3 linked regions of the Homo sapiens genome follow. Each later gene encodes a partner of the first gene's protein in a complex. Each region holds a gene or a part of one and is shown in the gene's direction. Other genes may lie near its edges.

Region 1 (8,039 bases):
GCACCAGGCAACGTCTGCCCTCTACCCCCCGATGACTCTGCCCCCAGGCAGGTGGGGGGTAGGACCTGGCCTCAGGAGACCCTCCTGGCCCAGCCCAGCATTCCAGAGGCACAGAGTCTGCAAACCCCTGCCTGGGCCTGGTGTCTCCTCAGGACTGCTGGCTAAAAGGTCAAGGAGTGCAGTGCTCAGTCCCAGCCCCCACACCTCCCTCCCCAACACACTCACCTTCAGGTGAATCTGCACCTTCCCGGGCCACAGTTAAGGATGGAGACAGAAAGCATCTGATGCAGTAGCATCAATGATCCCACTCTGGAGAGTTATCCCGAGCTCTCCATCTTTGCCCCAGAAGACAGGGGTTCGAGTTCTGCAATTCACTTGCTAGATGACCTCAAATAAGTAATTCCATCTCCCTGAGCTTGTTTCTTCACCTACAAATCAGAGCTAAGGATTCCTATGCCATTTGGCTTGGTGGAAGAATTAAAGGATATAACCCATGTACAACACCCAGCATGATGCCTGGCATGTAACGGGAGCTGAAGAGTCACGAGCTCAGGAACAGGAACACGTTCATTTCCCCCAACACTCCTAGGAAGAAAGAAGCTGGAGCAGCCGGGAGCCGTTGCTCACGCCTGTAATGCCAGCACTTTGGGAGGCCGAGACGGGTGGATCACCTGAGGTCAGGAGATCGAGACCAGCCTGGCCAACATGGTGAAACCCCGTCTCTACAAAAATACAAAAATTAGCTGGGTGTGGTGGCAGGCGCCTGTAGTCCCGGCTACTAGGAAGGCTGAGGCAGGAGAGGCAGGAGAATTGCTTGAGCCTGGGAGGCGGAGGTTGCAGTGAGCCAAGATCACGCCACTGCACTCCAGCCTGGGCAATAGAGCGAGGCTCCATCTCCACAAAAAAAAAAAAAAAAAAAGGAAGAAGAGGAAGCTGGAGCATGACGGCTTTCTGGGTGGGGAAACTGAGGCAGAGGCAGGTTAACAGCAGGATCTTAGGGTGACAGGCTCTTGCCTCTGCTAAGCGAGAGAGAGAGAGAGAGAGAGTGTGTGTGTGTGTGTGTGTGTGTGTCTGAATGTATTTTTTTTTTTTTTTGAGACAGGGTCTTGCTCTGTTTCCCAGGCTAGAGTGCAGTGCGTGATCTTGGTTCAATGCAACATCTGCCTCCCAGGTTCAAGTGATTCTCCTGCCTCAGCCACCCCAGTAGCTGGGATTACAAGCGTGTGCCACCATGCCTGGCCAATTTTTGTATTTTTAGTAGAGATGGGGTTTTACCATGTTGGCCAGGGTGGTCTCGAACTCCTGACCTCAAGTGATCCGCCCACCTCAGACTCCCAAAGTGCTGGGATTACAGGAGTGAGCCACTGTGCCCAGTCGTGTCTGAATGTCTTTGAGAAAGAGACTGCAAATGTGACTGGTGAAAGATTGCGTGTCAGCAAGAGAGTGAGACAGTGTGAAAGGCTTAGGTGCTCTCCCTGACTGGCTCAGCTTATCTCCCAGGCTGTAACTGATTACTTATCTGTCTGTCCCCACTACAATGTCAGCAGCCCCTTGAAGGGTAGAAGTAGGGTCCAGGCCAGGTGAGGTGGCTCACATCTGTAATCCCAGCATTTGAGGAGGCTGACATGGGCAGATAACTTGAGGTCAGGAGTTTGAGACTAGCCTGGTCAATATGGTGAAACCTTGTCTCTACTAAAAATATAAAAATTAGCCAGGTGTAGTAGTGCACATTTGTAATCCCAGCTACTCAGGAGCCTGAGGCAGGAGAATCACTTGAACCCAGGAGGCAGAGCTTGCAGTGAACTAAGATCACACCACTGCACTCCAGCCTGGACAACAGAGCAAGACACTGTCTCCCAAAGAAAAGAAAAGAAAAAGAGTCCAATTCGGGGCTTTATCCCCAGGATTTAAAACAGTGGATGCCACATAATGAACCTTCAATAAATAATCATTCAGATGAATGAGTGAATGAGTGAATGACTTTGTGAGGGAGCATCAGCCTCTGTGGAGGGTCAGTGTGAAAGGTTATGAGTGCGGGGAGAGGAGGCAGACAAGGGATATGGGGAACATATCCTAGGGACATCAGAGGGTTGCAAATCTGAGGGATTTGCGCATCTCAGGAGACAAGGAGGTTGCAAGACCTGAGCTATGAAAACTTTTAGTTTGTCTTTGGCTCTGGTAAACTCAGGAAATGCCCGGGAAGGTGAATGAAAGCCATGTGGGGTCCAGCTCCAGCTGGCGGCTCACCCTGTCTCCCCCCACAACCACATTCACAAGGGGAGCCAGCAGAGGGCCAGAGGCAGGGAGCTGAACCCCTCCAGCAGTCCGGGAGGTCTGGCAAGGTACCCTCTGGGCAGGCAGCTCCCAGGGCCAGGAGCCTCATCTGTCCTGGGAGCTCCAGCAAGGCAGGACTCTAGAGAAGGGAACCAGGACAAATTGTTTTTAAAAGATAACCAATTAAAAAAAAATTTATAATATACATATATATGTGTGGGTGTGTCTGTGTGTATGTATATACACACAGACACACAGACACACACAGACACACACACACACACACACACACACATATATATATATATATATATTTTTTTTTTTTTTTGGAGACAAAGTCTCACTCTGTCACCCAGTCTGGAGTGCAATGGCACGATCTCGGCTCACTGCAACCTCCACCTCCCGGGTTCAAGCAATTCTCTGCCTCAGCCTCCCTAGTAGCTGAGATTACAGGCACATGCCACCATGCCTGGCTAATTTTTTTGTATTTTTAGTAGAGCTGGGGTTTCACCATCTTGCCAGGTTGGTCTTGAACTCCTGACCTCGTGATCCACCCACCTAAGCCTCCCAAAGTGCTGAGATTACAGGCGTGAGCCACCGTGCCCAGCCTAATATATATTTTTAATAGAGACGAGATCTCACTATGTTGCCCAGGCTGGCCTCGAACTCCTGAGTTCAAGCGATCCTCCCGATTCAGCCTCCCACAGTGCTGGGATTATAGGCATGAGCCACCATGCCTGGCCTCAATTATTTTCTGATTTATCTTTGGGAGGAGACCATTCTTTCGCTTAAGAAGAAAAAGAAAAAAACAATTTTAAGTCTCTTTAATGGGCCTTACAGTTATGCAAAGATATGCCACTATCCCTTTGGGAGTGAGGGTGGAAAGAACTAGACTTGCCTGCGTAACAATGAGAAAGGAAGTTGCTTCTTAAGACAGGGTCTACACTAGCTAGAGGGGACAACCAGGACCTGAGCCTCAGACAGGGTCTCGCTCCATAGCCTGTTGCCCAGGCTACAGTGCAGTGGAGCGATCACGGCTCACTGCTGCCTCGACTTCCTGGGCTCAAGCAATCCTCTGGCCTCAGCCTCCCAAGTAGCTGGGACCACAGGTGCACCCAGCCCATTTCCCTTCCTCTCAAGGTGCCTTAAGAGAAGGAGAAGGCTTGAGATTCAGGTGAGGGATGGGCAGAGATCAGAGGCTGCCTGGCCTCCTGGTTTGGCCACAGTCTAGATGCTCAGGAGAGAAGTGCTTACAGGTGAGGCAAACATGAGCCAGGTGGGCACGGAGCTATCTGGGAGCACCTACTGTATGCCAGACACTTGAACTCTAATGGTGAGGTCTGAGGACACAGTTCCTCTACTGAAAAATAGAGACAGGGCAACTATGTTGCCAGGGCTGGCCTCACACTCCTGAATTCAAGCTGTCCTCCTACCTCAGTCTCCTAGTAACTAGAACTACAGGCACCCGTCATTGTGCCCGGCCATTCCACAGCTATTTACATAATTAACTGTTCAGTTACAATTCTGGCAAGCGTGCTGAAGAAATAACAGGTCCTAAATAATTACAGCTAGTATTACAAAGCAAGCGCTGCATGCCAGGCTTACACATACTGCTAACATGTCTACTTTTTGCAACAACCTCTTGTGGGTGAGACTATCATTTGCCTGTTTTACTGAAAGGACAGTGAAGACTGAGGCCTTGTGTGATGGTGCTGAGAGCTGGGCCTATGACGTCCAGCCCTGTAGTCTGTGCTCTGAACCACTTCACCCTGTTTCTTTCTCCATCCTCACAGTAGAGACGTCATCTAAGAGGAGCTTGCAAGTCCAGAGGGCTTCCTGAAGGAAGTGAGCTGAGAATAATATGAAATTAACCAGACCAAGGGCCATTCCAGGAAGAGAGAATGGTACGTGAAACTGCCCAGGAGTAGCAGGGTGGGAGCCAGGAGGCGTGGGTCATGGCAATCTATGTATAAAGAGCTATGGGAATCTATAGGAAAATTTAAGGGAGTGGCTGACACAGTCAGATTTGTGTTGTAAGTATCACTCCGCAGGTTGCGCAGGGAACAAATGAGGGAGCAGAAGGAAGGGGTTCTCCTATCCGCTGCACGGCACTGCGCAGAAGACAGGGGAGCCAGGCATTCCCTGAAGGGTGAAAAGCAAGGAGTAGAGCTGGGTAGTAGACTAGAATTTAGGAGCCTGGCCTGGGGCCTGGGTGGGGCGAAAGAGGCGGAGCCTGAATGGGGTGTGTATAGGGGGGTTGCGTGTAGGGGTGTGTGTATAGGCTGGGGCGGGGTCCCGGGAGTGGGCTGACTGGGTCGGGGGCGGGGCTCTCCAGGTGGGCGGGGATCTTGGCCACCCCTGGCCACACCTCTCTCCGGCTCGAGCTGGTCTAGGCGGGGCGGGCCCGAGGGGGTGTGGCAGGAGGTGGGCGGGCCCGGGTGGGGGGGGGGGGGGCGTGGAAGGAGGGGCGGGCCCGAGCAGGAGGGGGCGGGCCCGAGGGGCGGGGTGGGACAGGAGGTGGGCCGCTCGCGGCCACGCCGCCGTCGCGGGTACATTCCTCGCTCCCGGCCGAGGAGCGCTCGGGCTGTCTGCGGACCCTGCCGCGTGCAGGGGTCGCGGCCGGCTGGAGCTGGGAGTGAGGCGGCGGAGGAGCCAGGTGAGGAGGAGCCAGGTGAGCAGGACCCTGTGCTGGGCGCGGAGTCACGCAGGCTCGAGGTGAGCCGGAACCCTTGTGGGCCCGGGCTGCGCTCCCAGCCGCCAGGGGGCGAGAGGCGGCGGGGCTACGGGGACTGCCCCTCCCGGCGCAGGGGACCTGGGCGTCCGCCGGGCGGCAGGGGGTGGAGGGGGCGGTAAATCAGTAACCCGCAGTGCACACAGGGCCTTTTGTCCCGCTCCGTCCAAAGAGCACCCCGGCCGCGGAGCTGGTTACTCATTGCCCACCGAGGCGGGGGCAGGCTGGCCCTGTGCAGCTACCCTCGGGACCCATTGATTCGCACCTCCCCCCAGGCTGGCCCGGCAAGGGTGGGGGAGGACAAGCGCGCTTGTCCCTGCGGCTGTCTTCGCGCCGGCGGCAGAGATGAGGGACCTGAGGCCCCGAAAAGTTCAGTCACTTAGTGCCCGGGGGCCTCCAGCGCGAGTGCGGGAGGCTGAAGGAGAACCCAGGACTGTCTGATGCCTAAGGCAGGCCCTCCATTCCCACGTGGGGGGTGGTCGGTCAGCGGTCAGCAGCCATGGGTGACTCGACTAAGGACTCTGATATCAGGGCAGCCTGGGGTAGGAATAAACTCCCCGGGCCTCCCCACCCACTCCCAGCCCAAGCTGTGTACCCAAAGAGCTGCCCTCCCTGCCAAGCCGAGCTTGGTAGGGAGTTTTACCAAGGAGGATCCGACTGGATTCGAGAGTTGAGGTGGGCCAGAGACAGCAGTATCTGAGTCAGGTAGAGAAGAGCAATGAGGGGCACAGAGGGATGGGCAAGAGAGCACATGTGCCCAGTTTTGAAAGCCAATGGCTTCAGCGCTCCTGAAGGGGCAGACGGTGTGACCAAAGAGATAGGCAGCGGCAGAGAGGGAGCCCTAGGATGTTGAGCTGGATCCTGCTGGGCACAGGTAGCCATTAAGGGCTTGCAAGCTGGGGGGCATGACATGGCAGACTTGCAGGTTTTTTTGTTTGTTTTTTTATTTTATTTTATTTTTTTATTTTGTTTTTTTTGAGACGGAGTCTCACTCTGTCGCCCAGGCTGGAGTGCAGTGGCGCGATCTCGGCTCACTGCAAGCTCCGCCTCCCGGGTTCGCGCCATTCTCCTGCCTCAGCCTCCCGAGTAGCTGGGACTACAGGCGCCCGCCACCGCGCCCGGCTAATTTTTTGTATTTTTAGTAGAGACGGGGTTTCACCGTGTTAGCCAGGATGTTCTCGATCTCCTGACCTCGTGATCCGCCCACCTCGGCCTCCCAAAGTGCTGGGATTACAGGTGTGAACCATCGCGCCCAGCCGACTTGTAGTTTTTTAAAACTCTGCTGGAAGATGAAGGTTGAAGAGCCGAGGGAGAGGATGTTTCCAGAGGCCCATGCAAGAGATGGCCATGACCTGCCTTGAGAAGGGGCAGGGGAAGCCAGATGGACTGGAAGTGGAGTGGCAGTGACCAAGGAGGAGGAGGTGTGATAGGCTTCCCACGCAGGGTAGATCCAGAGACACCAGTGCCACCCATAGGCCCCTAGGACTGCAGTGGTCACCGATTCCTTTGTCCCAGCTGAGACTCAGTTCTGAGTGTTCTATTTTGGGGAACAGAGGCGTCCTTGGTAGCATTTGGAAGAGGATAGCCAGCTGGGGTGTGTGTACATCACAGCCTGACAGTAACAGCATCCGAACCAGAGGTGACTGGCTAAGGGCAGACCCAGGGCAACAGGTTAACCGTTCTAGGGCCGGGCACAGGGAGGAGAACATTCCAACACTCTGCGTGCCGACGCACGTTCTCTCTTTTATCCTCAAAACAGTCCTATGAGGATAGTAAGCCAGAGAGAGACAGAGACAAGGAATTACAAGTTGGTGAGAGTCAGGATTTGAACTTGGCTCTGGCAGATGGAAAATTAGGGTCTGTATTCTTTACAAAACCGTGTGTGCCTCAGATGGAGTTGGTGCATAACAAGCAGAGGTATCCAGGGTCGCGGTCCTGCTTGCCACGGAAGGGGCCGCCTTGTCAGTTGTGACCACCCAGCCCTGGAAATGTCAGTAATGCTGTAAGGAGTGGGGATCGGATCAGATGCCATCCAGATGCTGAAGTTTGACCTTGTGTCATTTTTCACTTTCTTTTTTGGCTCTTCTGCAATCAATTCATTTATTTAGCAAAAAAGAAATTATGTGTGCCGAGAGCATGCAGAAGATATGTCTCCGTTCTCTGCTTCCCTCCAAAAAAGAATCCCAAAACTGCTTTCTGTGAACGTGTGCCAGGGTCCCAGCAGGACTCAGGGAGAGCAGGAAGCCCAGCCCAGACCCCTTGCACAACCTACCGTGGGGAGGCCTTAGGCTCTGGCTACTACAGAGCTGGTTCCAGTCTGCACTGCCACAGCCTGGCCAGGGACTTGGACACATCTGCTGGCCACTTCCTGTCTCAGTTTCCTTATCTGCAAAATAAGGGAAAAGCCCCCACAAAGGTGCACGTGTAGCAGGAGCTCTTTTCCCTCCCTATTTTAGGAAGGCAGTTGGTGGGAAGTCCAGCTTGGGTCCCTGAGAGCTGTGAGAAGGAGATGCGGCTGCTGCTGGCCCTGTTGGGGGTCCTGCTGAGTGTGCCTGGGCCTCCAGTCTTGTCCCTGGAGGCCTCTGAGGAAGTGGAGCTTGGTATGGCTTCTGAGGTGGGAGAGGGTGGCAGGGGTGGGAAGAGTGGGCACCAGGAGGGGGCTGCTGGGCTGAGCAAAGCTGGAAAGGATCCTTGCCCAGGCCCTGAGAAGGTGGCGGCAGGGCAGGGCTCAACCACTGAGACTCAGTCAGTGCCTGGCTTCCAGCAAGCATTCATCTATCACTGTGTCTGCGAGAGAGGACTGGCCTTGCAGGGCGCAGGGCCCTAAGCTGGGCTGCAGAGCTGGTGGTGAGCTCCTTACCTGGGTGTGTGTGCGTGTGTGTGTGTGTTCTGTGCACTGGGTGTGTGACCTAGGAGGTCCAGGCAGCATGTGTGGTATAAGCATTATGAGGGTGATATGCCCCGGTGCAGCATGACCCTGTATGTGGCACCAACAGCATGTGCCTTGTGTGTGTGTGTGTCCGTATGTGTGTGT
Region 2 (7,523 bases), on another chromosome or scaffold:
TCTCGAGCAGCACGCTCGAGAGGCACGCACTCATGCTCGGCTAATTTTTGTATTTTTGTAGAGACAGGGTTTCACCATGTTGCCCAGGCTGATCTCAAATTCCTGACCTCAGGTGATCTGCCCGCCTCAGCCTCCCAAAGTGCTGGGATTACAGGCATGAGCCACTGCGCCCAGCCGGAATACAGATTCTTATAGGCCCTTATCTATACTAAGAGCCTTGATTCTATGAGCGTAAATGCAGGGACTAGACTTGATGCTTCCACACAGCTCCCGGGGCAAATTCTCTTAATGCCAGAGAAGTGGGTTCCAAACCAGGCTGGAGACAACAGGTTTCCCTGCCTGCCATGGGACCAGCCTATCTGCTGCATTCAGGTAGCTACCTGGGAACCAAGGACAGTGACGTCCAAACAGCACAAACCCAGGGCCTCCTCCCTGGGCTTCCTGTTCACAGCTGGTATCTATCTGTGTTTCTCTTTGGGCTCCTAAGGTCACACTGGTTCCCAGACCCTTGGACCTGAACTGTGACGGAGGAGTGCCCTCTAGGTGCAAAGGACAGGAACCGACATGTCCTGGCCTCTCCCTTCTCTTACCCACTGAAGCTTCAGAGGAGACCATGCACTGGACTCAAGGACAGGGTACTTGTCAGCACGAGGTACTGATTTAGCATTCAGTACTAAATTCCCTAGAAAGGCCCATTTACATCTTGACCTGCAGTTAGGATGGACATCCTAGAAGGGAACGGAAAGTTGAGCCTGCCACTGAAGAGGGCCTTAGTCTCTGTGTACTATTTCCAGTGCTTGATGTGTGGTTGGCGCTCAAAGCCTGTTTATTGATAAGTACTTTAGTATCAGCCACATCTGGTGTGGAGAATTAGAATCTCCCAGGTGGCTTTGAATAAAGTACAAATAACTGACTTTTGCCCCTGCAGATTCAGTAGGTCTAAGATTAGTCCTGGGGCAATTATGGCTTTAAAGCTCCACAGGTAATTCCAGTGAGCAGCCAGATTTGGAAGCCACTGGTAGGGAGTTCAGCCTGGAGCTGGACATTCTGCTGTCTCCGTGTTCCAATGGGCAAATCTTCATCTCCGCTCTCAGTGTTTCCCTATCTCAAATGGGGAGAATTAATCTGAGATTCTTGCGCCTTCCTTTACTCTCTCTAAGTGGGAAATGCTGCTTCTCCTCCCATCCTCCTTAAAAATAAGTCTACTCCTCTGGGCTGGACTCTGCCATTAGAGCCAGATGCTAAGCACACAGGGCTTCTTCTTGGAGGGGAGGCTTTGGACCTGGGTAAGCTGGCACAGGGCTCTCTTTCCTAATAAGACAAGCTGAGGTGGCCACGGAGGAGCCCCTTCCCCAGTCGCTCCAGGAGCTAGGGGAATGACCGAATGGCTGTGGACTTATCCCAAGACACCTGTGCTCCCTCTCCATCATGCTTGGCAGGTGCTGGGGAAAACCCTTCTCTGTGTATCCTACAAAGCTCCCTCAGTTCTCTCCTTCCCTCAAAGCCCTCCTTGACCACAGCATCTACCCACCATGACCTTTTTTTTTTTTTTTTTTGGTGACAGATCCTCGCCCTGTCATCCAGGCTGGAGTGCAGTGGTGCAATCTCAACTCACTGCAATCTCCACCTCCCAGTTCAAGTGATTCTCCTGCCTCAGCCTCCCAGGTAGCTGAGATTACACAATACGCCCAGCTAATTTTTTTGTATTTTTAATAGAGACAGGGTTTCTACTAAACGGGGTTTAGACAGGGTTTCACCGTGTTGGCCAGGCTGGTCTCGAACTCCTGACCTCAAGTGATCTGCCCACCTCGGCCCCCCAAAGTGCTGGGATTACAGGCATGAACCACCACGCCTGGTCAACATTTCTTTTTTGTGAAGGAGCTTGGTAAAAAAGTGCAGGCAGCAAAGCACTCCTCCATGATTCTCTCGGAAACCCAGGTCTTTACCCGGGGTGAATCTCTAGGGTACATAGTGCTTGTCTCCCCAGGGTTGTTTGGAAGATGTATGACATTAAATGTTTATGTATAAAGCAGGCTTCTTTAGTAATGGCCACAGAATGGTTTATAAATATAGTACCACATCTTCACTAATTTGCTCCTAGTAATGAAGCTCCTCCCACACAGTGCCTTGTATTGAACGAAGATGTTCCCTGCTCAGTTACACTGGGAGCCCCTAGAGGAGTTAGTCCTGCTTTGTAGTCCTACACCCTCCCTTTCATCTCTTACATGGAGAAGGTTCTCAATGGCTGCTGATTGCCTTATAATTACTTCCCATCTCTTTACCTTTCACAACCAGAATAAGAAATGCAGGGCAAATGTTCCTAAGTGATTTGCATCTCAATTCTGAAAGCTAGCTATTTCTTCAATTAGCTAAGACGTAGCATTATATTTATAATCCATTCTGTGGCTATTAGTAAAGAAGACTGTTTTACATATAAACATTTCATGTCATACTTCTTCCACTCAACCCTGGGGAGACAAGCACCATGTGTCCTAGAGATTCATCCTGGGTAAAAGCCTGGGTTTTTAGAGAATAACAGAGGACTGCTTTGCCACCTGCACTTTTTTACCAAGCTCCTGGCTCTCATGGCTTTAGCTCTAACATGTTGTATGGGTTTGGACACCTTGAAAAGTGCTTAGGAGGTCTTGGGGCCAGACCTGGATTCAAATCCAACCTCTTCCACATGTTACCTTTCTATCTCTAGGCAAGTTACTTAAACTGTGTGCATAGATCAGTTTCCTGATCTATATAAAGAAAATAACAGCATCTCCTCAAAGAGTTATTCTGAAGATGAAATGGGTTACTACAAGTAAAGCACTTAGAGCAGTAAGTGGAACAGTAAGCTCTCCATGAGCGTTAGTTCTTGCTGTGATTCTTTGGAGAAGCAGCCTAGGGAAGGAGAAGACCTTGTCCTGGCTCTACCATTTATTTGCTTTGTGCCTTTGGACATGGAAACACTAAGATTTCCATTTCTTCATGTAAAGTATTAAAATCTTGATAATGCATGGAGTGCCTATCTCACAGAGTGGCAGTGAGGTTCAAATAAGCTAATAGATGTGAAAATGCTTTGTAAACTATAAAAAAAAACTGTACAAATGTAGGGTAACAAATGCCATCTCTTTCTGTCTATACCTGTAAGCTTGCACTCATTTTGTATTATAGTTACTTATTTTTATCTGCCTCCTGCATTAGATTTGAGCTCCTCAAGATAGGAATCACATCTTGCTGTCTCCTATATCAACCTGTACATGAGTCTAGCTTGATGCCTGTACATGGCATATACTCAGTACAGGGAAACTGGAAGAATAGCAAACTCCTTGTGTGTTTTTTCGGGTGTGTGTTCCAGTAGCTTGCTCCCCTTTAGACTGTATGTGCCAGGACTATTCCACCCGACATCAGGTGTAGCTTCCCAGAGGGCTCACTGTGAACAGCATCTGCAGGCAGGCATCCAACACCAAGCTGAGCACTCATGTACAGACACTAAATGTGGGGACACCCTGTCCTGAGGCTCGGATCCCCAGTGCTCAGCCAGCAGCTGTTCCAATCCCCATGAGGTCTCTGAATGAGTCTCCTTACTACTGGAGAGACTACTAGTTTAGTTGCCCTCGATAGTCCAAACTAGGGAAATTGAGAAATTGAACCTTGGCATATTCAGTGAAGTCCAGACTAAGGAAGCTGAGAAACTGAACCTTGGCATGTTCACTGACCTCAAGGCCTTACTTCTTTTTCTTCCATTTCAAAATCTTCCCAAAATGGCAACTTTGGCTTTTGTGCCCCTGCTCCTAGCTCCCATCTTTCATGAAGTGGGTGTTCTTAGAGGATGCCATCTGCCTGATGGTGTCATGTATCTCTATATCCTGCAAGCTACCCACCAAATCCTGCTCACAGATTAAGCACTGGATACATACTTGCTGATTGGAATTTAAAGAAAACCAAAATAAGTAAACTCGACAGGAGATTAATTGCCTAGGAGTCGGTTGACTGCTTGACTGAAGCTGGATTTTTTTTGGGAACCGCTGGCTGCCTTCACATTTCCTGATGGAAGTGGGACAGGTCAACAGACAGCCCAGAGTGGCAGATAACTTTTGCCCACACGTCATTCATTTTTTGGAGCGTTGGCTTGAAATTGAGGGGTGTGTGTGTCTGGAACCGACGTGCCTTCCGTGCGCCTCCGGGGTCTTTGCACTTTCTTTCAATGGGCTGATTACAACACAGAGGATGTGGACAGTGGAGTTTTTCCTGTTTGATGTCACACTGCTACCCTTTAAAAGTCTGACGGCAAAAAGGAGGGAATCCAGTCTAGGATCCTCACACCAGCTACTTGCAAGGGAGAAGGAAAAGGCCAGTAAGGCCTGGGCCAGGAGAGTCCCGACAGGAGTGTCAGGTTTCAATCTCAGCACCAGCCACTCAGAGCAGGGCACGATGTTGGGGGCCCGCCTCAGGCTCTGGGTCTGTGCCTTGTGCAGCGTCTGCAGCATGAGCGTCCTCAGAGCCTATCCCAATGCCTCCCCACTGCTCGGCTCCAGCTGGGGTGGCCTGATCCACCTGTACACAGCCACAGCCAGGAACAGCTACCACCTGCAGATCCACAAGAATGGCCATGTGGATGGCGCACCCCATCAGACCATCTACAGTGAGTAGGGCTTCAGGCTGGGAAGAAGGGGAGCACCCTTGTTGTCCATCTACAGGAGGCTTGGGGAGGTTGGGGACTAGACTGGAGGGCTAATCCAACCCTCCTAGCTTTCTGCCCAGGAACCACTTATTGTCTTTGTGTGTGTGTGTGTTTGTGTGTGTGTGTGTGTGCGTGTGTATTTAAAACTTAGGGGAAGATTCTGTCACTCTCCTAATTAGCATTTGCTGGTTTTTCTCAATATGAATAATTTTTATTTCAACTAAAACCCTTCCCACAGTAGGAGCCATGTTCCCTTTGCCCCGTCAAAAGATTGAAAAAATGTACAGAAAGAAAGGCAAGGAGTCTAAGAGAAAAAGAAGCCAGGCAGATCAACAGACACTAAGTTTCAGCTCATGGACTTTGGACTGGGTTAACTAGGGAGGTTGTAAAGATTCCTGGGTCATACCCAGATTGTTATAGATAAATCTGGGGGCTCTTTCCAACTCTGGCCTTATAAAAATTCTTGGAAAAATGTATTAAAGACAGACTGTCCATGTATGTTGTCTTGGTGAGAATGGCCAAGTATACAACCCATCCACCCATTCATTTGTCCATGCATCCATCCATCCATCCATCCATCCATCCATCCATCCATCCATCCATCCATCCAACAGGTTTAATGGGTGTTTCAGACACCCAGGTACCCAGGTACCCAGTATGAGTTGGTGATTCTTCTCTGTGGAACTGAAAGGTGTCCAGTCAGTAGCAAGTCAAGCTAGTTAGAAACTTATTGGCAACATGAGACAACTGGAATGTTTTTAAAGATCAGGTTTGTGGAGAATTGGATCACAATCCACAATAATCAATCCATTAGCAATGATTCAAATGAGGGTCCCTTTGTGTGCACCTATATAAGGGGTAATGTGGTGAAAGCAGGGATAGATATTGAAAAAGACTGGATCTTCTATTTTAAGAAAACGTGAGAAAACACCTCAAAGCATACAGAAAAATGCAAACTGATCCAATATAGCTCAAATTAAAGGAAAGAAAAATTAGTTAGACAATCTCTAACTAAAGAAAACATAGGAATTATGATTTGCCCTTTATTGTTGTAATAAATAAATTAATTATTTTTGCTGTGACCTTGCTGTGTGTGAGGCATTTATTCTTCTAGGCTCCAAAGGTCCTTAAACCTGGTTGCAAGATATACAACATGCAAAATTAAGTTGCAAGATATATAACATGCGAAATTGACAGTTTAACCTCTTCAAGTACTAAATGCATATTGACAGGAGATAAAAGGAGAGAGGAAAGTTCTCTCCGAATACCAAACAGGTTCCAGAACTCCAGAGAATATAGTAAGACTCAGGAGTCAACATCTTGGAAACCAAGTTTGAGTCTCATGGCAAAAATTTCAATTAAATCTGGATACACTTGATGCACCCGAAGTGTTGTTCATTTTATTCAATGGATATTTAATAGGATCTACCATGTGCCTGGCATTCTACCAAGCGCTGTGGCTGAAAACTAAGACACAACCCTTCAAGGACCTCATGGTCTGTCGTCCTACCTTGTCAGCCAGCTCACTACCAGACTTTCAGGAAATGCAATTTTGCATGTCTCATGGAGGGGACACCCTTACTCTAATTCAAGACTATATGTGGGCCAGGTGTGGTGGCTCACGCCTGTAATCCCAGCACTCTGGGAGGCCGAGGCAGGCAGATCACGAGGTCAGGAGATTGAGACCATCCTGGCTAACACAGTGAAACCCCATCTCTACTAAAAATACAAAAAATTAGCCAGGCGTGGTGGCAGGCGCCTGTAGTCCCAGCTACTTGGGAGGCTGAGGCAGGAGAATGGCGTGAACCCGGGAGGCAGAGCTTGCAGTGAGCCGAGATTGCGCCACTGCACTCCAGCCTGGGTGACAGAGCGAGACTCCATCTCAAAAAAAAAAAAAAAAAAAAAAAAAAGACTATATGTGATTTAAAATGCAGAATAGTAGATTATGGTAAATTATTTTGATTCTCTTAGATGGAAAGGGCTGCATCCAACTAGAGAATGTTTATACAACTTGTCTCGAATCCTGGAATCCCGTTGCTGAAAGGAACTCCTTAAAGACGTTTCTTCCTGAACAAGAATTAGGGTAGAACAGAACAGGCCGGCTACGGTGGGGAGTGAGTGTGAAGAGTCAACCTCCTGGGCTGGCAGTCTGAACTTAGACCTTTTCCTTGAAAGCCCACCTCGTATCAGGCCCCAAGGGATCACTGAGTGCTAGTTAGAGTGAATTAAAATGACTGAGAAGCAGCAAAATAAATTGAACTGACTTCAGATTTTTAAAAATAGAAATGTGATTTTGTTTCCTTAGACATAGGCACTAGCTAAACATTGCATCTTTAAAGAGTTAAACATGAATGCGGGGAGGGGAACTTCGGGTCAGGGTAGTGGGAGGGAGATCTACTTTTCCTAGTCTATGTAGATAACTTTTTGTACTGTTCAATGAGTTGTCATGTGTATTATGGGAAAAAAAAAGTGCAGGAAAAAATTACACACTACAATTAAAAGTTACCCAAAAGAGGCCAGATGCGGTGGCTCACGCGTATAATCTCAGCACTTTGGGAGGCCGAGGTGGGAGGATCACTTGAAGTCAGGGGTTCGAGACCAGTCTGGCCAACATGGGGAAACCCTGTCTCTACTAAAAATACAAAAATTAGTGGGGTGTGGTGCCTGCCTGTAGTCACAGCTACTTGGGAGGCTGAGGCAGAAGAATCGCTTGTACCCCAGAGGTGGAGCTTGCAGTGAGCTGAGATCGCACCACTGTGCTCCAGCCTGGGTGACAGAGTGAGACTCCGTCTCAAAAAAAAAACGTTACCCAAAAGAAAGAGGAAAGATTAATGCATGTAGATAAGAAGCA
Region 3 (7,795 bases), on another chromosome or scaffold:
GTGAGTTGAGATTGTGCCATTGCACTCCAGCCTGGGGGACAGAGTGAGACCAGGTTTTTTTAAAAAAAAAGAAAAAGAAAAAAGAATCACCATATGACTCAGCATTCCTAATTCCTATTACGGGTATATATCCAAAGGAAATGAAATCGGTATGCCGAAGGAATATGTGCATTGTGTTGTTTACTGTATTACCATTCACAATAGCCAAGATAATGATTCAATCTAAGTATCCATGAACAAACAAATGGATAAAGAAAATGTGGCATATATCCACTATGGAATACTAGTCAGCCTTACAAAAAAAAGGAAATTCTGTCATTTGTGATGACATGGATGAACCTGGAGGGCATTATGTTAAATGAAATAAGCCATGCACAGAAAGACAAATACTGTATGATCTCAGTTATATGTGGAGTCTGAAAAAGTTGAACTCACAGAAGCAGAGAGGAGAACGATGGTTGCCAAAAGATGAGATGTGGGAGTGGAGGGGTGGGGAGATATTGCTTGAAGGATGCAAAATTTCAATTAGATGGAGGAATAAGCCAAGAGATCTATAGTGCCACATGGTGACTATAGTTAATAACAATATATTGTATTTTTGAAAATCTCAGAGTAGATTTTAAGTATTCTTCTTTTTCTTTCTTTTCTTCTTTTCTTTTCTTTTTTCTTTTTTGAAACAGACTCTTGCTCTGTTGCCAAAGCTGGAGTACAGTGGTGTGATCTCAGCTCACTGCAACCTCCGCCTCCCGGGTTCAAGTGATTCTCCTGCCTCAGCCTCCTGAGTAGCTGGGATTACAGGTGCCTGCCACCATGTTGGTGAATTTTTGTATTTTTAGTAGAGACAGGAGTTTCACCATGTTGGCCAGGCTGGTCTCGAACTCCTGACCTTAGGTGGTCCACCTGCCTCGGCCTCTCAAAGTGCTGGGATTACAGGTGTGAGCCACCACGCCCGGCCAGATTTTAAGTCTTCTTACCACAAAAAAAATAAGTATGTGAGGTAATACATACGTTTATTAGCTCAATTTAGCCACTCTACAAATGTGTATATATTTTAAAATAACATGCTGTACATGAAAATATATATAATTTTTTGTCTGTTAAAAATTAATTAATTAATTAATTTTAAAAAGAGGAGGGCAGGGAATACTTGTGTATTTTGTTAACTGGACAAATGAAACTCTACTTTCATTTGCTCATTAAACAAATACTTGTTTTGTGCTCAGCATGATTCTAGGCACTGGGACTACTGCATTTTGGTCCATTACTTCCTTGCGCACAAAAACCCTTTCTTTTCACCACGAATACACTATGAACATGTTTTTTTCTTCAGTGTTGGCATCTCTTGATTCCTTCCCTCCAGGTCTTTGTGCGAGTTTTACTCTTTAAACCCCAGATATTGTCATATTTTTCTCTGTTAAACTTTTCCAAACAACTCAAAATAGGGTAATTTCTTCTTCTTCTGAATTTCTCTGACAATTATTCTATGGGTCATTTATTAACACAGCATAATCAAACAACTTATTTATTTTCATCTTTCTTGATCCTTTCTTCAGTTGGATGTTGTCTTTGAGGGCAGAGGTTGTCCTCTATGTTTTGAAGTCTCCACACAGCTCGTCGTTGCCTTGCCCGTAGTTGTAGCTCAGTGAAATAAAAATATGTCCGTAGAAGGTGATGTCTGTGACTGGTGAGCTGAGAGCTTGTGGGGTTGGTGTTGTATTTGGGTGCATGTGAATCAGTGCATCTCCTGCTCCATTGGTGTTAAAAGGCTCCCATCGTCCTGGGAACACAATAGGAAAGAGAACAGGTGGGAAGGCACTGGATGAAGGAATGTGGAGAATGGAGGAAAAGTTGATCAGATTGTTGACAACTTTCAGTGTTGAAATTGTCACCAAAATCAAAGTCAGTAAATAAATTTACAATGTCCTTTTCTTCAATGCATCAATAACTTCACCTTCCTGTTCAAAGCACAGCAAGTAATTAATCTCTTATTTGCATTTGAAACCCAAGTTTCAGATGTTTGAAGGTGGTTGTAAAAAATAAAAACCAAAATAAAGCCAAAATAAATAAGCAGCAGCACTAGGCCGGGCACAGTGTCTCACACCTGTAATCCCAGCATTTTAGGAGACCGAGGTGGGTGGATCACAGGAGATCAGGAGTTTGAGACCAGCCTGGTCAGCATGGTGAAACCCTGTCTCTACTAAAAATACAAAAATTAGCCAGGTGTGGTGGTGTGCCCTTATAATCCCAGCTACTGGGGGGCTGAGACAGGAGAATTGCTTGAACCTGGGAGGCAGAGGTTGCAGTGAGCAGAGACCATGCCACTGCACTCCAGCCTGGGCGACAGAGTGAGACTCCGTCTCACACTTGTGGAACCCAGAACTTAGTAACCATGAACAGAACCTTAATAAACAGAAAGTTCTGGAAATAAAGTTTAATCATCATGCAATCTTTATCACTGGGTTAAATGAACAATCATCTGGGAACATGTCTTGGAATGCTTAAAGCTTTGAGATGCATGTGCCTATGTGGCAGACAAATTTCAAATGTGAAACGTTTAGTTAACTTGGTCTTGCTTTTTAATCACTGCTTTAAAATTTAAAAAATGCTGCTGGTCAAGTAAAAATAGCAATAGATAAAATCTGCCCTGAGCAAACAGACCATACATCAATAAATGAATACTTAGCTTAAGCGATTTTCCATGAGACCCATGAAGCATTTCTAATTGAAACTTAACAAGCTACAACCCAACAGACACTCCAATCTTCACTTCTAGAAGGGAAATGTGATACTCCATGTAGACGTAGCTTTTTAAATTTAGCTGGAAGACAGCGTGACAGTGAAGTTGTGTGCTGTAATTTTTTAAAATTGCTGAAGTGTCATGGTTTGCTATTTCGTATTTATTGAAAAAATGTAAATGCTATATTTAACAGAATGGCAGTAACTCTGTTTCAATCTGAAGACTTAATCTTACTAATCATGGTAATATATGCTGGCTGGAGTTGGGAATATTTCATAAAATACTGGAATAAATTTGTGCTTATATTTCAGGGGAATTAATAAAAGCACCTTCATCTGCAACATTTAAAATGTTATTGCCTTTAAATTTGTATTAAATAATGCAGGGAAGATAGATCACTGGGGGAGAATGGATGCACCTCTGTGAGGATCTTGGTCATTCAACACACGTGTACGGGTGAGGAAACTAAGGCACGACTTACTGGGTAGGGAGGTAGGGATATTAGCAAGATCCTTCACTTGTCTGGGCTTTCTGTCTTTGAGTCACCTTTGCGCAGTTTTTCACTGGACTTCACAAGCCTCTGAGGCGGCAGGGCAGACAGGACATCCTTATTTTATAGAGGAGGAAACTTAGGCTTACAGAGGTTTCCTGCCCCAAATCACAAAGGTGGAGCCTAGACCTTCTCAGTCTCCACCAACTGTATTTCGGTTAGCCACAATCCTATCTACCCACATCCAAATGGACACTGTGGCTCTGCAACTTCTGTCAAAAGGGCTCTTTGGCAACAGGAAAAACGTCATGGCTCCATTGTATTGTAGAGGATGGGAATGGGTGTTCCGGCTAAATTCTCCCTCCCCTTTCCCTCCACAGCTCAGATGGCAAATGTGCGACCCAGGGACCTCCCGCTCCAGCAGACCTGTGCGCACAACTTTGCACAGATTACCTGCTAAGTCAGAGCCGAAAGGTAACACAGATGCCAAAGGATAATAAAGGTGAATGAGATTTACTCAAAATTGGAAACTTGGTGTTTGGTTTTTCAGGAGAACAATCAACGACTGTGATTTGAAGTTCACCAGGGTATTCTGAGAGATCTAATCAAAGATAGAGTGCTGGTTTGAAATTATTAAAAGGTAACAGTAAAAGGGAGAGCAAAACCCCAGTCCCAACGCAACCCATAAATCTACTTTGTCTTCCTCGAAAGAGGGGCGCGGGTGGGCGCGTCTCCCCGCGAGCATCTCACCTAAGGGGGAATCCCTTTCAGCGCACGGCGAAGTTCCCCCTCGGCTGTCCCACCTGGCAGTCCCTCTAGGATTTCGGCCAGTCCCTAATTGGCTCCAGCAATGTCCAGCCGGAGCTTCTTTGGGCCTCCGAGTGGGAGAAAAGTGAGAGCAGGTGCTTCCCCAGCGGCGCGCTCCGCTAGGGCCCGGCAGGATCCCGCCCCCAAGTCGGGGAAAGTTGGTCGGCGCCTTTTCTCCCCGACGAAGCCGCTCCAGGGCTGCTCTCAGAGGACGCGCGGCAGGCAAAGAGAATGAACCTGAGCGTCCACGAAACGTCCTGCACGGCTCCCGGGAGCTGGGAGAAACAGGTGCCTTTCTCCGACGTCCGCGGGCGACGCCTGCCGCACCTTGCCCGCTGCCGCGCCCCTCCCGGGCACCCCTCGCCCTCGGCGCCCCTGCCCCCGCCCCCAGTGCCAGGGCGGAGGCAGTCCCGGCTCGCAGGTAATTATTGCCAGCGGAGCCCGCCGGGGAGCGGGGGTGGGCGCGCCGGCGGTGGGCGGGCGGGCGCGGCGGGGCGCGGGCATAAAGGGGCGCGGCGCGGGGCCCCGGAGCCTGGCTCCCGCGCAGCATGCCCGCCAGCGCCCCGCCGCGCCGCCCGCGGCCGCCGCCGCCGTCGCTGTCGCTGCTGCTGGTGCTGCTGGGCCTGGGCGGCCGCCGCCTGCGTGCGGAGCCGGGCGACGGCGCGCAGACCTGGGCCCGTTTCTCGCGGCCTCCTGCCCCCGAGGCCGCGGGCCTCTTCCAGGGCACCTTCCCCGACGGCTTCCTCTGGGCCGTGGGCAGCGCCGCCTACCAGACCGAGGGCGGCTGGCAGCAGCACGGCAAGGGTGCGTCCATCTGGGATACGTTCACCCACCACCCCCTGGCACCCCCGGGAGACTCCCGGAACGCCAGTCTGCCGTTGGGCGCCCCGTCGCCGCTGCAGCCCGCCACCGGGGACGTAGCCAGCGACAGCTACAACAACGTCTTCCGCGACACGGAGGCGCTGCGCGAGCTCGGGGTCACTCACTACCGCTTCTCCATCTCGTGGGCGCGAGTGCTCCCCAATGGCAGCGCGGGCGTCCCCAACCGCGAGGGGCTGCGCTACTACCGGCGCCTGCTGGAGCGGCTGCGGGAGCTGGGCGTGCAGCCCGTGGTCACCCTGTACCACTGGGACCTGCCCCAGCGCCTGCAGGACGCCTACGGCGGCTGGGCCAACCGCGCCCTGGCCGACCACTTCAGGGATTACGCGGAGCTCTGCTTCCGCCACTTCGGCGGTCAGGTCAAGTACTGGATCACCATCGACAACCCCTACGTGGTGGCCTGGCACGGCTACGCCACCGGGCGCCTGGCCCCCGGCATCCGGGGCAGCCCGCGGCTCGGGTACCTGGTGGCGCACAACCTCCTCCTGGTGAGTGCGAGGGGCCAGGCGGAGGGCCACGCAGGGGAGACAGAGGGCCTCCACAGGGGCCAGGGGGAAGTGTGGGAACTGAGTCTCCCCCAGACGAGGCTTCACTTGGACACGTGTATGTGGTCACCGGGGGAAACTGAGCAGTTCTGACTTCCCTTGGAAGGCGTGGAATTAGGAGAGAAATCCCTTAGTGGGCACACGAGTGAGTGCCCCTTGGAGTCCATCTGTGGAAAGGAAGCGGTGATAGGTTTCCGCAGTGAGGAAAGAAACTCCTTTCTCTGGGTGTAGAGGAATTCCTAGAGGTGAGGGCGGGGAGGATTTGCTAGGAGTAACTGCAGGAAGAGAATGAGCAGGGTGGATGAAAGAAACACGTTTGTTCTTAAGCCGCACAGATAGCATTACTCTCTGGAGCTGTCACGAGTTCAGTGTTAATCCAATAAGATCTGTCTTGCTTGTGGCACAAGTTCACACTGTTGTGAAAGTGTCAAAACACAACTCCCGGAGAGTCAGATTTAAACTGTGTTTGGAGGTCCCTTCTGCGGCAGGGCAGGGAACTGCATCCACCAATCTTATTCACCGGGGTGTGAAGACCGCTTTATACAATCTCAAACAAAGCTAGTCATAGAAACACAGAAACAACTGCAGGGTGATATAGATTGTTCTACCACATCTATATTTCCACAGTGCTCTCTACAGTTGAAAGGGTTCCTCACTTATGACATTGTTAGCCTGATAAAATTAATTGTAACACCCTTGTGCAAAATATTTTATTAATTTTGACAGCAGGAAATATTGCTATGCCATGGTAAAGTTGTCTCAAGTATTTCTTCCTCCTTTTTTCTCCTTAGTGTTCAAATTTAGGCACCATTGTTTTGGGGATTCATTTATAATCATGTCAGTTGTTAGTACACTTTGTACAGAGTTTTGTATCACAATAAAATATTTTATGTACATGTATAAACATTTTAATAAAAGTGTTTAAATGTACAACTTTTGGTACCCAATTCTGATCACTTGTGGGCCTACTGGAAGACTTATTTTTAAATTTAGAATTCAGCCACATATTCTGAACAAAGTCAGTACTAAAACCATTTCTAAACACTTTTAATTAAAGCCATAGATAATATGGGCAGAGCAGTACTGGGTTATTGAGGTGACTTAGTGCTCTGAGCTGCTGGTAATGTTGTAATAATGGCTAAATTAGATTTTATGTCAGTTCCACAAAACCTGTTTGCTGCTACTGGCCATAAAAGAATGTTGGATTTGTTTGGAAACACATTGTGATTTTTGTGATTTCATACTTATGTATGTCTTTTCATAAGGATGTTTTAGAGCGGTGATTCTTATACTTTTTCAATCCTTTTATGGATCTGAAAAACTCTAAAGACCACCAGTGTATGGCTGGTGATAGAAAAACTATGGGAAGAATGGTCTCACTTTTTGAAGAAAACATAAGCAAGTTATCAGTTCATACTGGAAGCAAATAAATGGATCAGCTGGAGGATCTAATAGATCATGCCCATAAAATCTTTACTTTAGATTTAAATCCTACAAGTTCTATTTTTAGAGTCCCTAGGATAAACTTGCATATACAAAGTAGTCAATTGTTATTATAGTGACTTATAGGATCATTTTATTATAAGATAAAGACTTGCGTGCTCTCTGGTGCTCTGGTGTTTTAAATAATCAACATGTTTTAGATCTTTTTGCCCACTCATGGCCCTCTGATTAACTTCTCAGTTATATTTTTCAATGCTTACACAAAAAATTTGCCAAACACTAACCATCCTTCCTAGAAATGCAGTGGACTTTGTATTTAGGGAAATTAGTAACAGGTGAATGCTCCATTTGCTGATGTTGCAAACAAACTGTTAGTTGGTGTAAAGTATTAATTTTGCTTTCACATTTCTTTTGGTTTGGTGTTTAGTCATTCTTGTATCTTATTTAGAAGCGAGTTCCCATTGTCAAAGAAAGTATCTTGAATTAATTTTGTTGTATGAGATACTTTCATTCTGTTTTCAATGACCTTTCTCGGTGTGTATATAGGGGTTGGGGGAAGCGAGAATAGAAAAATTTGAGCTTACCTGAAAAAGATAAAACATTCTGCAGATTTTGATAAAAGGGCATTTTAGCTGGGGCTTAGATATTGCTGCTGTACAGATATAGGGGCCAGTTGTGTTCCGGGATCTGATGTTGGTGAAGGATAAAGACTGGCTAGCACCCTTCCCTCACTCCCTCTGTGTTTCCACTAACTTACAAATGGGCTAAGGAGATCCCCTGGGATGATGGGAAGCTTGACCCCTCCTAGAGAGTCAAGAATCATTGATGGCCTGGAGGACAGGAGGCAGAACAAACAAACAGCAGGACAAATAATGGAGGCCCTGCTCAGAATGG

The links. The genes of interacting proteins can lie anywhere in the genome.
Region 2: the proteins of FGFR4 (region 1) and FGF23 are in contact, whole or in part, in a cryo-EM structure (PDB 7YSW), measured with the Homo sapiens proteins. Residues at the interface, in NP_001341913.1 of Homo sapiens: Glu156, Lys157, Lys158, Leu159, His160, Ala161, Val162, Pro163, Asn166, Asp240, Leu242, Glu243, Arg244, Ser245, Pro246, Lys272, Val273, Tyr274, Ser275, Asp276, Ala277, Gln278, Pro279, His280, Ala308, Asp309, Ile310, Ser312, Gly336, Asn337; in NP_065689.1 of Homo sapiens: Leu32 (codon at 4,516), Gly33 (codon at 4,519), Ser35 (codon at 4,525), Trp36 (codon at 4,528), Gly37 (codon at 4,531), Tyr43 (codon at 4,549), Ala45 (codon at 4,555), Thr46 (codon at 4,558), Ala47 (codon at 4,561), Arg48 (codon at 4,564), Asn49 (codon at 4,567), Ser50 (codon at 4,570), Ile75, Arg76, Ser77, Glu78, Asp79, Ala80, Gly81, Val83, Val84, Tyr93, His117, Gln118, Thr119, Asn122, Gly123, Tyr124, Asp125, Leu158.
Region 3: the proteins of FGFR4 (region 1) and KL are in contact, whole or in part, in a cryo-EM structure (PDB 7YSW), measured with the Homo sapiens proteins. Residues at the interface, in NP_001341913.1 of Homo sapiens: Asp266, Gln282, Leu284, His286, Ile287, Ile289, Gly295, Ala296, Asp297, Gly298, Phe299, Pro300, Tyr301, Val302, Gln303, Val304, Leu305, Lys306, Asn311, Ser312, Glu314, Leu318, Tyr319, Leu320, Arg321, Asn322, Asp327, Thr332, Leu334, Leu341; in NP_004786.2 of Homo sapiens: Ser539, Gln540, Phe541, Thr542, Asp543, Asn545, Val546, Tyr547, Leu548, Trp549, Asp550, Val551, His553, Ser554, Lys555, Arg556, Leu557, Ile558, Val563, Thr565, Arg568, Tyr571, Val573, Ala576, Gln579, Pro580, Glu625, Arg628.

What each region holds. Positions count from the first base shown.
Region 1 is NC_000005.10:177,082,089-177,090,127, forward strand, and holds the start of FGFR4 (fibroblast growth factor receptor 4 isoform 1 precursor), read left to right. Parts: upstream 1-4,826; 5' UTR 4,827-4,989; intron 4,990-7,461; 5' UTR 7,462-7,514; coding exon 7,515-7,605; intron 7,606-8,039. UniProt on the Homo sapiens protein: Tyrosine-protein kinase that acts as a cell-surface receptor for fibroblast growth factors and plays a role in the regulation of cell proliferation, differentiation and migration, and in regulation of lipid metabolism, bile acid biosynthesis, glucose uptake, vitamin D metabolism and phosphate homeostasis.
Region 2 is NC_000012.12:4,376,482-4,384,004, reverse strand, and holds the start of FGF23 (fibroblast growth factor 23 precursor), read left to right. Parts: upstream 1-4,292; 5' UTR 4,293-4,422; coding exon 4,423-4,633; intron 4,634-7,523. UniProt on the Homo sapiens protein: Regulator of phosphate homeostasis. Inhibits renal tubular phosphate transport by reducing SLC34A1 levels. Up-regulates EGR1 expression in the presence of KL. Acts directly on the parathyroid to decrease PTH secretion. Regulator of vitamin-D metabolism.
Region 3 is NC_000013.11:33,011,859-33,019,653, forward strand, and holds the start of KL (klotho precursor), read left to right. Parts: upstream 1-4,582; coding exon 4,583-5,401; intron 5,402-7,795. Other genes in the region: translation initiation factor IF-2-like, read right to left, coding at 1,587-1,777, 3,978-4,584. UniProt on the Homo sapiens protein: May have weak glycosidase activity towards glucuronylated steroids. However, it lacks essential active site Glu residues at positions 239 and 872, suggesting it may be inactive as a glycosidase in vivo.